Linked DNA regions of Homo sapiens. The protein of the gene in region 1 interacts with the protein of each later gene in a pairwise test. Each region holds a gene or a part of one and is shown on either strand. Other genes may lie near its edges.

The links.
Region 2: the proteins of NUFIP2 (region 1) and FHL5 interact in binary tests that used the Homo sapiens proteins (3 or more experiments, as listed by UniProt).
Region 3: the proteins of NUFIP2 (region 1) and GRN interact in binary tests that used the Homo sapiens proteins (3 or more experiments, as listed by UniProt).

What each region holds. Positions count from the first base shown.
Region 1 is NC_000017.11:29,292,671-29,296,422, reverse strand, and holds the start of NUFIP2 (FMR1-interacting protein NUFIP2), read left to right. Parts: upstream 1-2,274; 5' UTR 2,275-2,363; coding exon 2,364-2,640; intron 2,641-3,752. UniProt on the Homo sapiens protein: Binds RNA.
Region 2 is NC_000006.12:96,615,111-96,618,862, forward strand, and holds the end of FHL5 (four and a half LIM domains protein 5), read left to right. Parts: intron 1-498; coding exon 499-662; 3' UTR 663-3,516; downstream 3,517-3,752. UniProt on the Homo sapiens protein: May be involved in the regulation of spermatogenesis. Stimulates CREM transcriptional activity in a phosphorylation-independent manner.
Region 3 is NC_000017.11:44,343,194-44,346,945, forward strand, and holds the start of GRN (progranulin precursor), read left to right. Parts: upstream 1-2,108; 5' UTR 2,109-2,141; intron 2,142-3,752. UniProt on the Homo sapiens protein: Secreted protein that acts as a key regulator of lysosomal function and as a growth factor involved in inflammation, wound healing and cell proliferation. Regulates protein trafficking to lysosomes, and also the activity of lysosomal enzymes.

The DNA.
Region 1 (3,752 bases):
AGGTGTGAGCCACCACACCTGACCTGTTTTTTCTTTAATAATTGGGAACGTGGCAGAATATTATTCAGTGGTAAAGACTTATTGTGATATGATATTATTATTAGGGTTTTCATTCTCAAAATTGGGTAAATGTACCCCCAAAGAGGTTTTTCTTTAAAATTTAGCAAAGCTGGCTGGGCCTGGTGGCTCATGAATCCCAGCACTTTGGAAGGCTGAGGTGGGCAGATCACCTGAGATCAGGAGTTCGAGACCAGCCTGGCCAACATGGAGAAACCCCATCTCTATTAAAAATACAAAATTAGCCTGGCACAGTGGCGCATGCCTGTAATCCCAGCTACTCAGGAGGCTGAGGCAGGAGAATTGCTTGAACCCAGGAGGCAGAGGTTGCGGTGGGCTGAGATCATGCCATTGCACTCCAGCCTGGGCAACAAGGACAAAACTCCATCTCAAAATAAAATAAAATAAAATTTAACAAGGCAACACAAATCCTTACTGTATAGAACATGCCAAAATTTGGTCATGGTTTTCAGGATTCAATGACATTTGTTATTGGAAACCAGCTTTTACGTTTTAAATAAGCTTTTGCATTGACATTCATTAATTTCATAGCATAAACTTTTTGCTTTCAAGCTTCTTGTTCCTTTAATGTTGTCCTGTTGTAGGAATTCAAGCCACATTTTAAAAATTCAAAAACGTAACATACATTGAGGAAACAGTCCATATGTCCGTTGCTGAGTGAATGAACAAAATGTGGTATATACATATAATGGAATATTAGTCAGCCTTAAAAAAGAGGGAAATTCTGATGTATGCTACTCTGAAGACATTATGCAAAAAAGCTAGTCACAAAAAGACAAATACAGTACAATCCCACTTATATGAGGTACCTAGAATAGTCAAGTTCGTAGAGACAGAAAACAGAACAGTGGTTATCAAGGGATGGAAGGAGGAGGGAAAGGACATTTATTTTTATTGGGTATGAAGTTTCAGTTTGGAATGATGAAAAAGTTCTGGAGATAGATGATGGTCATGGTTCTACAACAATACGAATGTACCTAATGCACCTGAACCATACACTTAATATTAAGATGGTAAATTTTATATTATGAATATTTTACAATTAAAAAAATCCCCCAATCTATAACATACATTGGGAAAAGTGCATTTTATCTGTATATTCAGTTTAACAAATAATTACTAAGCAAATATATGTAATCACCACCTAGCCCCCAAAATGAAATATTATCAGAGTAACCTGTGTCCCTCCCCATCACAACCCTCTTCCTTCCTGAGTAACCACTATCATGGCTCTAACATTTGCTTTTGAAAATCATATACTGTGATGTGGTAATGCAGGATAAGTTAAATCTACACTACAAAACGCTACAGAATATTTCTTTTAATTTCAATTTTTCCATAAGTGCCAAAAAAAAAAAAAACAAACCCACTTAATAACTTTTAAGTGCTCTTTCTCCCCTTCCTTTGCTCTTGAAACTTCTCATTCTAAAACCTATTTTGGTTCCACAGTTGACCTCACCTGCAGAGTTTAATTAAAAAAAAAAAAACCTTCAGTGTAAATTTTCATTCCTCCTGCTCTCCCTTGCCTCCAACTACAAAGAAACAATGATTTAAACCCTTTGTGCCCTTTTAGAAAATTACACAGATACCCCATTGTGGAACCCTATAATCCCTTCGTGGAAAGGAAGAGATTAGCATATGAATACAAAGCAAAATGAATCCAGAATACAAAATGATCTACTGGATTGTGAAGCTCTTGTATGCTTAAAAATGTATTTATTTCCTCTTTTTGTATTGCCCCTTTAGTGGTCTCGGGGTTAAGGGAATTGAGCTTCCCTTTCTGGTTACCCGGAAAAGGATTAAAAACAAAACAAAACAAAAAACAAAAAAACACCAGATTCTAAGAGGTGCAAAGCCAGCAGATGGCTCACAGCACCAGTGGAATCGCCAGTGGAATCTGCTACCCTCGACACGAGCCTGCTTGCCGGCGAGGAGTGTAGAAAGTGCTGTTCACAGACTGCGTGGTGAAGGAGAGAAAGCGACAGAAGAGAGAGCCATAGTGCTGACGTTGAAGGCCCGGCCCTGTGAGGTTGCACAGGGTAAGTGGCGTTGGCCAGGCGGCAGCGGCGAAGGGGAAGGAAAGAGGATTTGAGCTGGGGGCGGGGCTTGCGGCACAGCGTGGCTCCTGATTGTTGGAGTGCGGCTGCCAATCTCGCAGAATCGCTCGGTTAACCAGTGCGCTGGCGAGACGCGCTCAGATATACTGAGTGAGCCCTGAGAAGCAGTCTCAGATCCTGACGGTGCAGCAGCCCGCAGCCTCAGCCAGGGAGTCCCAGCCGCTTTCAATGGAGGAGAAGCCCGGCCAGCCACAGCCTCAGCACCATCACAGCCACCACCATCCGCACCATCACCCTCAGCAGCAGCAGCAGCAGCCGCACCACCACCACCATTATTATTTCTACAACCACAGCCACAACCACCACCACCACCATCATCACCAGCAGCCTCACCAATACCTGCAGCATGGAGCCGAGGGCAGCCCCAAGGCCCAGCCAAAGCCGCTGAAACATGAGCAGAAACACACCCTCCAGCAGCACCAGGAAACGCCGAAGAAGAAAACAGGTCTGGGAGGGAGGACGGGTGGGGGAAGGGGGTTGGGGGTGGAGGACAGGAGAGATGGGGGTGGGGCTGGATCCGAAAAGCGCGGACGGGGTCGGGGTGTGTGTGTGTGTGTCCCCTCCGGCTCTGGGGATGCCCCTTTCATTCTAGAGCTCGGGCTGAGCAATGGGGTTTGCAGCGCCCTCTCCTTCCCTCCAGCATGGGAGAGGCCCAGCCAGGCCAGCGTGACCTTCCTGGCCCCGGCCCCGGCTGAAGGGAGACCTGCTGGGTCGGCCTTGCAAGTCCAACCTCATTATTCTTTTCCCATTCACCTCCCTGCGTCCCTGGAGTTACCTCAATTTGGGGGCCCTGAGATGGGGTAAACCTACCCCCCCAAAAAATCCCTCGAGGTGTAACTCAGGAAGGCCTAGCGAATCCCGACTCGGATGGTGTCGCGAGACCCTTTTGCAGGCGGCGAGGAGTGGGTAGGTAGGGTGAGTTGAGGAAGTGCCCCTCACCCGCCACCCCAAGCCCACCTGTGGCCTTGGGGCTCCCCGTCTCGGTGGGGGGGGCTGTTGGGACCCCTCATCTCACGGGTCATTTCCACCACTAAACGCCCTTTTTGGGCGCCGGACCCCGCAGTCTTGTCCCGCGGCTCCTCCCGAGGCCGGCGCCCCGCGCCCGCTCCCCCCAGAGCCGGCGCGGCTGGAATGTTCTCTCCTCCTCGCGGGGCCGCTTCCTGTCCGCCATGTTGGAAGCCGATTCCTGTCACCGACTCCGGCCCACTGAGGAGCGGAGGGGGAAGGGTGTCGAGGGCCACACGGGGCGGCGGAGCCGGGTGACCCGGGATCACCACCGGCCGCAGCCTCGCCCCCTGCACTGCGGGGGCGCCGGCGCCCCCCGCACCGCGGCCGCCCCCCCCCCCGTCGCCGGCCGGGGTTGTGTAACCCGGTGGCGGCGCGCGGCCCCGGGCGGGTCCCTGGGGTGAGGGGCGGGGGCGGTTGGGGTGGGGGAGGGAAGCGGCCACGAGGGGAGCGGCCTGCGCAGGGCCCCGCGCGCCAGCGGCCGCGTTTCCCGCTCCCGGGTGCGGCGGGAGGCGCGGGCAGTCGGGGCGGGGAGCCGGCCTCGAAGCGGAG
Region 2 (3,752 bases), on another chromosome or scaffold:
GAAAGAAGAAAACTAAAACTCATTACAACATTGGACATCAAACTAGGAAGCATACATTTATTTCCTTTTATCTTCATTTTGCAGCTAAGAAAACTTAAAGTCATATAGAGAAAAAGGGGAAATGTATTCATACTTAGATATCTCTGACTTCACAACCTATACCTTCTTTCCACTATGCTACACTGTATTGTCTTATCTGGCTTAGACAACCTTATCTGTTTCCAAAAATACCTGACTTGCATATTAGCATTCTGCCTTCTTCTGTTGATTATGGCAGAATTTGGCTGTGAATCTGGTTGGGTGGCATAGGTGTAACTTTCCTACAGTGGATAGTTCCAGATGGACACAGGGCCAGGAAGCAGCATTCTTTTTTGGGTTATTTGCCTCTGCGTTGTTTTGCTCATAGCTCTATCTCCAGTTCCTAGAGGAGCATCTGCTAGAATGCTCAATCTGTTCCTTGAAAGGATAGATTAATCTTTTTCTCCAATTCCTTTACAGGTCTCACAGGTGCCAAGTTTATCTGCTTTCAAGACAGCCAGTGGCATAGCGAATGCTTTAACTGCGGGAAATGCTCTGTCTCCTTGGTGGGTAAAGGCTTCCTGACCCAGAACAAGGAAATCTTCTGCCAAAAATGTGGCTCCGGAATGGACACTGACATCTAGGAGACAGTCCTTGCCCACCTAAAATCCATTTTGCCTTCGTTGTCACTAAAGCCAGAACTCAGTTGCGGTCTTATTTTTGACTTAAGTTTTAGAAAATATTCATGTAGTTTAGAGTGGAAAAGTTTTTGCACACATTTTGATCGAACTATATTCTAAGCACACAAAAAGCACAGTAGAACAGAAATGAATATATGCTAAATCACAAAGACAACTCTCCTTGCAAAATACTGCACTCTGCTGTTAGAAGCAGAGGAAAATATCTCTTCATAATCAAATATATGACATATACCTAGGAGCTGTGGATGTAATTACTGAAGAATGAGGTTTTTCATACCTGAAGAGTAAAAGAAAAACTAAGAGATCAAACTGAGAGGTATACATGAGGCTAGTGTTTGCATTCCTGGTTATATGTAATGTGATAAATTAGCTATGAATGGTAAAAGAACAAAACTGATCAGAGTAAATTCATTAGCAATTATCACATTTAAGAATTGTTATCATTTAAAAATCATCCTTTTTTTCACACATACTGACTGTAGAATTAAAAAACAAAGCTACAATTTGCCCTCATACACACTGCTTCCACAGCTTGCTAGTTCTGTGTTTACTCAATGGAATATGAGAACTGAGGACATTATGGCTCTCATAATCTGCATAGGTATAAAGAGGATCATTTCTACCTAGGGATAGCCAAAGCATGGGTTTCAACACGTTTTGTATTAAATATATTTTCAAAGTCCACAGTGATTTTTCTAAACGCTTACAGATTCCATGAAATAAAAGTCTATTCTTTCAAGTGGAGCTAACCAGGATAATCTTTGTCCCCAAAGGCAAACCTTTAAAATAAATAGATCATTAAATCTTCACTTGTGGAAATGAGTTTTAGGGAAGGGATTGAGTCTTGGAACATGACTTTCATCCAGATATCTAACGACATAATAGAATGCATAATTAGCTCTGTGCCTCATGCATTATTGCCTTCTAAAATTACATAAATGATTAATGGGCAGACATAAAAGTGGGCTTTAAAGAAATCTAGTAATAATAAAAGCTGAAAAAGAATAATTCACTGCTGATAATTCAGAACCTGCAAAGCAGCACAATAGAGTAATGTGGGCTGTAGGCGAGCCCTCCCCACTCTTCCCCCACACCTGTGCCACACCCCCCTTACCCCAAGCCAGTTGTGCCCCCAGTTTCAATCTCCTGCATAACCAGGAGGTGCACTCCTAACCCTAAGCAACTGTCCTATAAGTCAGTCAGTGTTTATTGATCACACAGGAAGTAAAGAGCCTTAGTGAGAAGTCCATCACCAGGTTTATCTTTATACCAGACTTTAACTGATCATGACCCTATCTTGCTACCCCTGGATATTTTCCACATTACTTGGGACAAATGGAAAGCAACCTCTGCTCTCCATGATCTGTTTTCACATTGGTTATAGCATCTCTTGGATGGAGTAGAGGGAGGTCAGGAGAAGAAGCCCACATAGATATATAACTGTCTTCTCTCAGATTACACATTATAGCATTAAAGGTTTTGATTAAAATCTAATTGTAAGATACTGCTGATTACAATTACCAAAATAGCATCACAGGAGATTCAATTAAAATTGTTATGGAAATAATTTTTGAAATAGTTTAAAATGCAAGAATATTCAGCGATGTTAATAATTTAGAGATACTAATAAGTGTTCTGCTAGATAGACTATTTGAAAACTATAAATGTATTTTTGGATTAACAATGCCAAGGTATTTTTTCATATTCACATTGAAAAATACAGGCAAAACTATCAATATTTTTTCTGCATTATATGAAATTTCACAGGTAGAACTAAATCTATGATATAGAAAATAATAGCACATTACACATAGAGAAAACCAAGCCACTTAGGTTTAGATAGATATATAACATGTAACATCTTCTCTGTTAACCAATTATAGATACATATACAACATGTAATGTTTTCTTAGTTAAACAATTGGAAATGTTTAGGCATTTTACTGTGTGGGGGCAGTGAGTATGCACATGATCAGACTTGTATTCTAGCTTTACAATTAAAATTCACAGAATCATTTCCTAAAGATTTTATTATCCTTTCATAAGTATAAATATATATACTTTTACATATAAATAGTTCTGCATTTAGAAGGTATCCTACACATCAAACATCCATTAAACATGTACTATGCCAAAAGTTAGAGCTTATACTGTTGTGGGTCTGGAGTTGTAGGAGGATGGATCATGGTATGGAAATGCAGAAGTGCCTGATGCAAAGATCCTTGCCTGCAGGTTAAACAAAGCACCACATATGTAGACATAGCACACATATGCAAAACAACTAAGAAAAAGACCTCCTTAGGTCTTTGCGTAACACACACAAAGATAAATGTAAAAATTATATAGTTGATTTATATGGTTTATGTAACAAAGAGAAAAACTCCTTAATGGACTTATCCAAAGATGAAATGGACTGACTCAGGAAACAGTGGGCTCCCAGTAATTCAAAGGTGACATCTGCATGGGCAGGAAAGAAGTTAAAAGCAAATCCCATGTGCCAATAACAACCAGATGGCTTGGAAGTAGCAGAGACTGCCGAAGAGCAGGAGAAAATAAGATTGCTAAAAGAGAAAGAGTCAGAGGAAGGGAGAATATTAACTCTTAGGATAAAAAGTGACATAACCGGCCATAGAAAGTTACCAACTGTTCATAAGTAAAGGAAGAAAATAATTATTGTAGTGTTTGAGGAAAATTATGCTTTTGATCCTTTGTGGAATAGAACCAAAGAAAGCAAGGTTCCAAGGATTAAGTTTCTTACTGAAGGAATAAGTTTGGTTAATGGCTACAAAAGTGAAAAGAAAGAGGAAGAAGGCATTGAAGGCCACGAGTTACATTTGTTGGCAAAGATGAGTATGCAAGTCAACAAGTCAAAATATTTTATTTTGTCATGTTGGGGATTAAAGATGACAAAAGAAGCAAAAATGTATTTCTGCTTCAATAATAATGACTAGGAAGCCCAAGGGTTCAATTTTAACTTGGCATTATAAAAGTGTTAAATTGGGACAAACTAGCTCCACTGGTTAAGTAAAATGT
Region 3 (3,752 bases), about 15 Mb from region 1:
CTACCAGATGCCAGTGTCCCTCCACCCTGAGTTGTGACAACCCAGATTGTCTCCAGACACTCCTAAATGTCCCTGGCCGGCAAAATTGCCGCTGCTCAAGAATCACGGCTTTGACGATTAGACTTTGTGATATTTGTTTCAGTCTGTTTAGGTTTTTTTTCTTCTACCTGTATTTTTTTCTGGTTCTGGGTGGTTGTAATTAGTAGGTTATTGATCGATTCACCTAACATTTCATGAAAGTTTCATGTGTGTGTGTGTTTCAATAGAAGCATAAACTATACTCCCTAGTCTCAAGATACACAGGAAGGAAAATAAGCACAAATGTGTCACCAGGGCACAGACTAGTACTAGGTCCTCAGCAGGCCAGGTGTCTTATCCGCTGTCTGGGTCTGCTCTAGCTCCAGGCTTAGAACCCCTGCCACACGACTCCACAGCTCGGTTGGCACCCTTTCCCTCCTCCGACTTCTGCTGCCTCGAGCTTGGTTAGCCATCCCCCTGCCCCTGCCTCATCCTCAGCTCCAGTTCCTTGCTCAGGCTGCAGCAGTCTCCATCCCCTGTGCAGACACTGCCGTTCCTCCACGGCCCAGTATCAGGCTTTCCCTGGGCCTCTCCTCTCTCCTGGCCCATCTCCCATCATCCATCTCTGCCTGGCCCAGGCCCTTTGGCACCAAGCAGGCTGACTCTTGTCACTGGCTAATCTGTTCTGTGGTACATTTTCTCTCCTCACCCTCCCATATCAATTCCTCGAAGGCAGGGCCGATCTGGAGACTAGGAAGCCACTTCTCTTTCGACAGCCCCCACCACAGCCCAGCCCGTGCCAGGCACCCAGCAGCTCCTGAAGCCCACTGGCATTGAACATGGCATTCAATCCCTGCCAAGCCTGCCCTTCCCATCTGGTTTCCCAGGGCTCTTCCCAACACCTCCTCCTCCACCTGCCAGTTAAAATCTTCCCAGACTCAGCTCAAGGAGATGCTCCTAAGGTGGAATGAAATCTCTTCTTCCCCACCTGGAGACAATCTACTTCCTCTCCCTACACCTGGCAACTGGCGCACAACCTTGTATCTTAAATTAGATTCAGCCTGAGACTGTCTCCCACCAATCCCTGCTCCCTGTCCTGCTGAGCACCTTGAGGAAAGGGCTTTGGGGCTGTTTATCTTTGTCCTGGAAACCATCCTTCAACTCACTCTGGGGCCTGCCTAGCATGTCAACCGAGTTTGGAGAATAGGGCAGAATAGGGCAGGACAGGACAGGACAAGACAGGGCAGGATAGGATAGGAGCGAGCCAGCTCAGTAGCTCACATTTGTAATCCCAGCGCCTTGGGGGGCTGCGGTAGGAGAATCGCTTTGGGAGCAGGAGTTGCAGGCCGCAGTGAGCTATGATCAGCTTGGGCGACTGAGCGAGACCCTGTCTCTAAAACAAACACACAAGTCCGGGCGCGGTGGCTCATGCCTGTAATCTTAGCACTTTGGGAGGCCGAGGTGGGCGGATCACGAGGTCAAGAAATCGAGACCATCCTGGCCAACATGGTGAAACCCCGTCTCTACTAAAAATACAAAAATTAGCTGGGCGTGGTGGTGCGCGCCTGTAGTCCCAGCTACTCGGGAGGCTGAGGCAGGAGAATCGCTTGAACCCGGGAGGCAGAGGTTGCAGTGAGCCGAGATCGTGCCACTGCACTCCAGCCTGGCGACAGAGTGAGACTCCGTCTCAGAACAAACAAACAAAAGGATAGAAAGGCGAGCACAAATATTCCCAATTCATAACACTCCCTCGCACTGTCAATGCCCCAGACACGCGCTATCATCTCTAGCAAACTCCCCCAGGCGCCTGCAGGATGGGTTAAGGAAGGCGACGAGCACCAGCTGCCCTGCTGAGGCTGTCCCGACGTCACATGATTCTCCAATCACATGATCCCTAGAAATGGGGTGTGGGGCGAGAGGAAGCAGGGAGGAGAGTGATTTGAGTAGAAAAGAAACACAGCATTCCAGGCTGGCCCCACCTCTATATTGATAAGTAGCCAATGGGAGCGGGTAGCCCTGATCCCTGGCCAATGGAAACTGAGGTAGGCGGGTCATCGCGCTGGGGTCTGTAGTCTGAGCGCTACCCGGTTGCTGCTGCCCAAGGACCGCGGAGTCGGACGCAGGTAGGAGAGCGGCCGCGCAGACCTCTCGCCTGCTCCTGCCCAGGGGCCCGCCAGGGCCATGTGAGCTTGAGGTTCCCCTGGAGTCTCAGCCGGAGACAACAGAAGAACCGCTTACTGAAACTCCTTGGGGGTTCTGATACACTAGGGGGAGTTTTATGGGAAAGAGGAAGCAGTAATTGCAGTGACGCCCCGTTAGAAGGGGCTTTCTACCTCCCCAGCATTCCCCCAAAGCAGGGACCACACCATTCTTGACCCAGCTCCACCCCTGTCGGTAGGTGCTGGCTTCTTCCCCTCTCCTGGTGGTGGTGGGTGGTTCCCGCGGCGGCCTGGAGCCGGAGGGGCGCGCGACCCTGGGCTGGGAGCTCCGAGGGCCTGGGAACGAGACCTGAGACCTTGGCTTCTCGAAGGTAGTAGGGACTTGGGAGTGGTGACTGAACCTGGTCTGGCTCCTCCTTACTTCCTCTTGTTGCGGGTGGGACGAGCTAGCTTCCGCCTCTCCCAGCCACTTTTTCCTGCTCATTTGCAGCTAGGTTGGCTCCCCTTTTGGGAATTTCCTCTCCCCTTGGCACTCGGAGTTGGGGGGTGCCACCTAGTGGAAGATAACGGAGCTAGGGTCTTGAAGAGGCTGCTGTCCCCTCTGGCTGTTTTGGCGGTGTAGGGTGGCATGAGAGACTGCGACTCGCCTCCTCATCCCTGTTTCTGTATGCGAGTGCTTGTATTCAGTAGAAGCATACACTATACTCCCTCAATTTAGGGTAAACAGGAGGGGCCACATGCACAGGTAATTCACCAGGGAGCCGAACACTCCTGTGCAGACAGACTCCCCTTCCCAGCAAGCCATGGCAGCGGACAGCCTGCTGAGAACACCCAGGAAGCAGGCGGTGCCAGCTGCAGGTGCTTTGCCTGGGAGCTGTGGGGCTGAGGAGAGGGTCCACTGTCCAGGACCAGTGAACTTCATCCTTATCTGTCCAGGAGGTGGCCTCTTGGGGATGCTGAGTTAGGGGAGGGGCACTTGAGGAAAGCCAGGTGGAGCAGAGAGGATGTGAGTGACTGGGTGGGTGAGATTTCCTGCCCCTCCCCCCGCAGTGGTATCCACACCTAGACTCGTGGGGTAACTGAGGCACAGACAGAGAGCAACTTCTCAGGCCCTCACAGTTGGCAATTCTAGGATTAGGACCCAAGTGCGATTTTCAGGCAGTCCCTGTACCCTGTTTCTGTTGTACCTGTTGCACCATTCCCAGGCACTGCCCATCGTGCCACTAGTGATATGAACCCAGGTCCAATACGCTCTGGGGCCATCAAAGCCTGACGTCACCATGACCTGATGTGTGACGTGTTATAGGTGTCCCTTGGTATCTTCACGGAACTGGTTCCAGGACCCCAAAATCTGTGGGTGCTCAAGCCCCTGAGATAAAATGGTGTAATATTTGCATATAACCTATACATACTTTAAATCATTTCTAGATTACTTATACCTAATACAATGGAAATGACATGTCGGCTGGGCGTGGTGGCTCATGCCTGTAATCCCACCACTTTGGGAGGCCGTGGCAGGTGGATCACCTGAGGTCTGGAGTTTGAGACCAGCCTGACCAACATGGTGAAACCCCC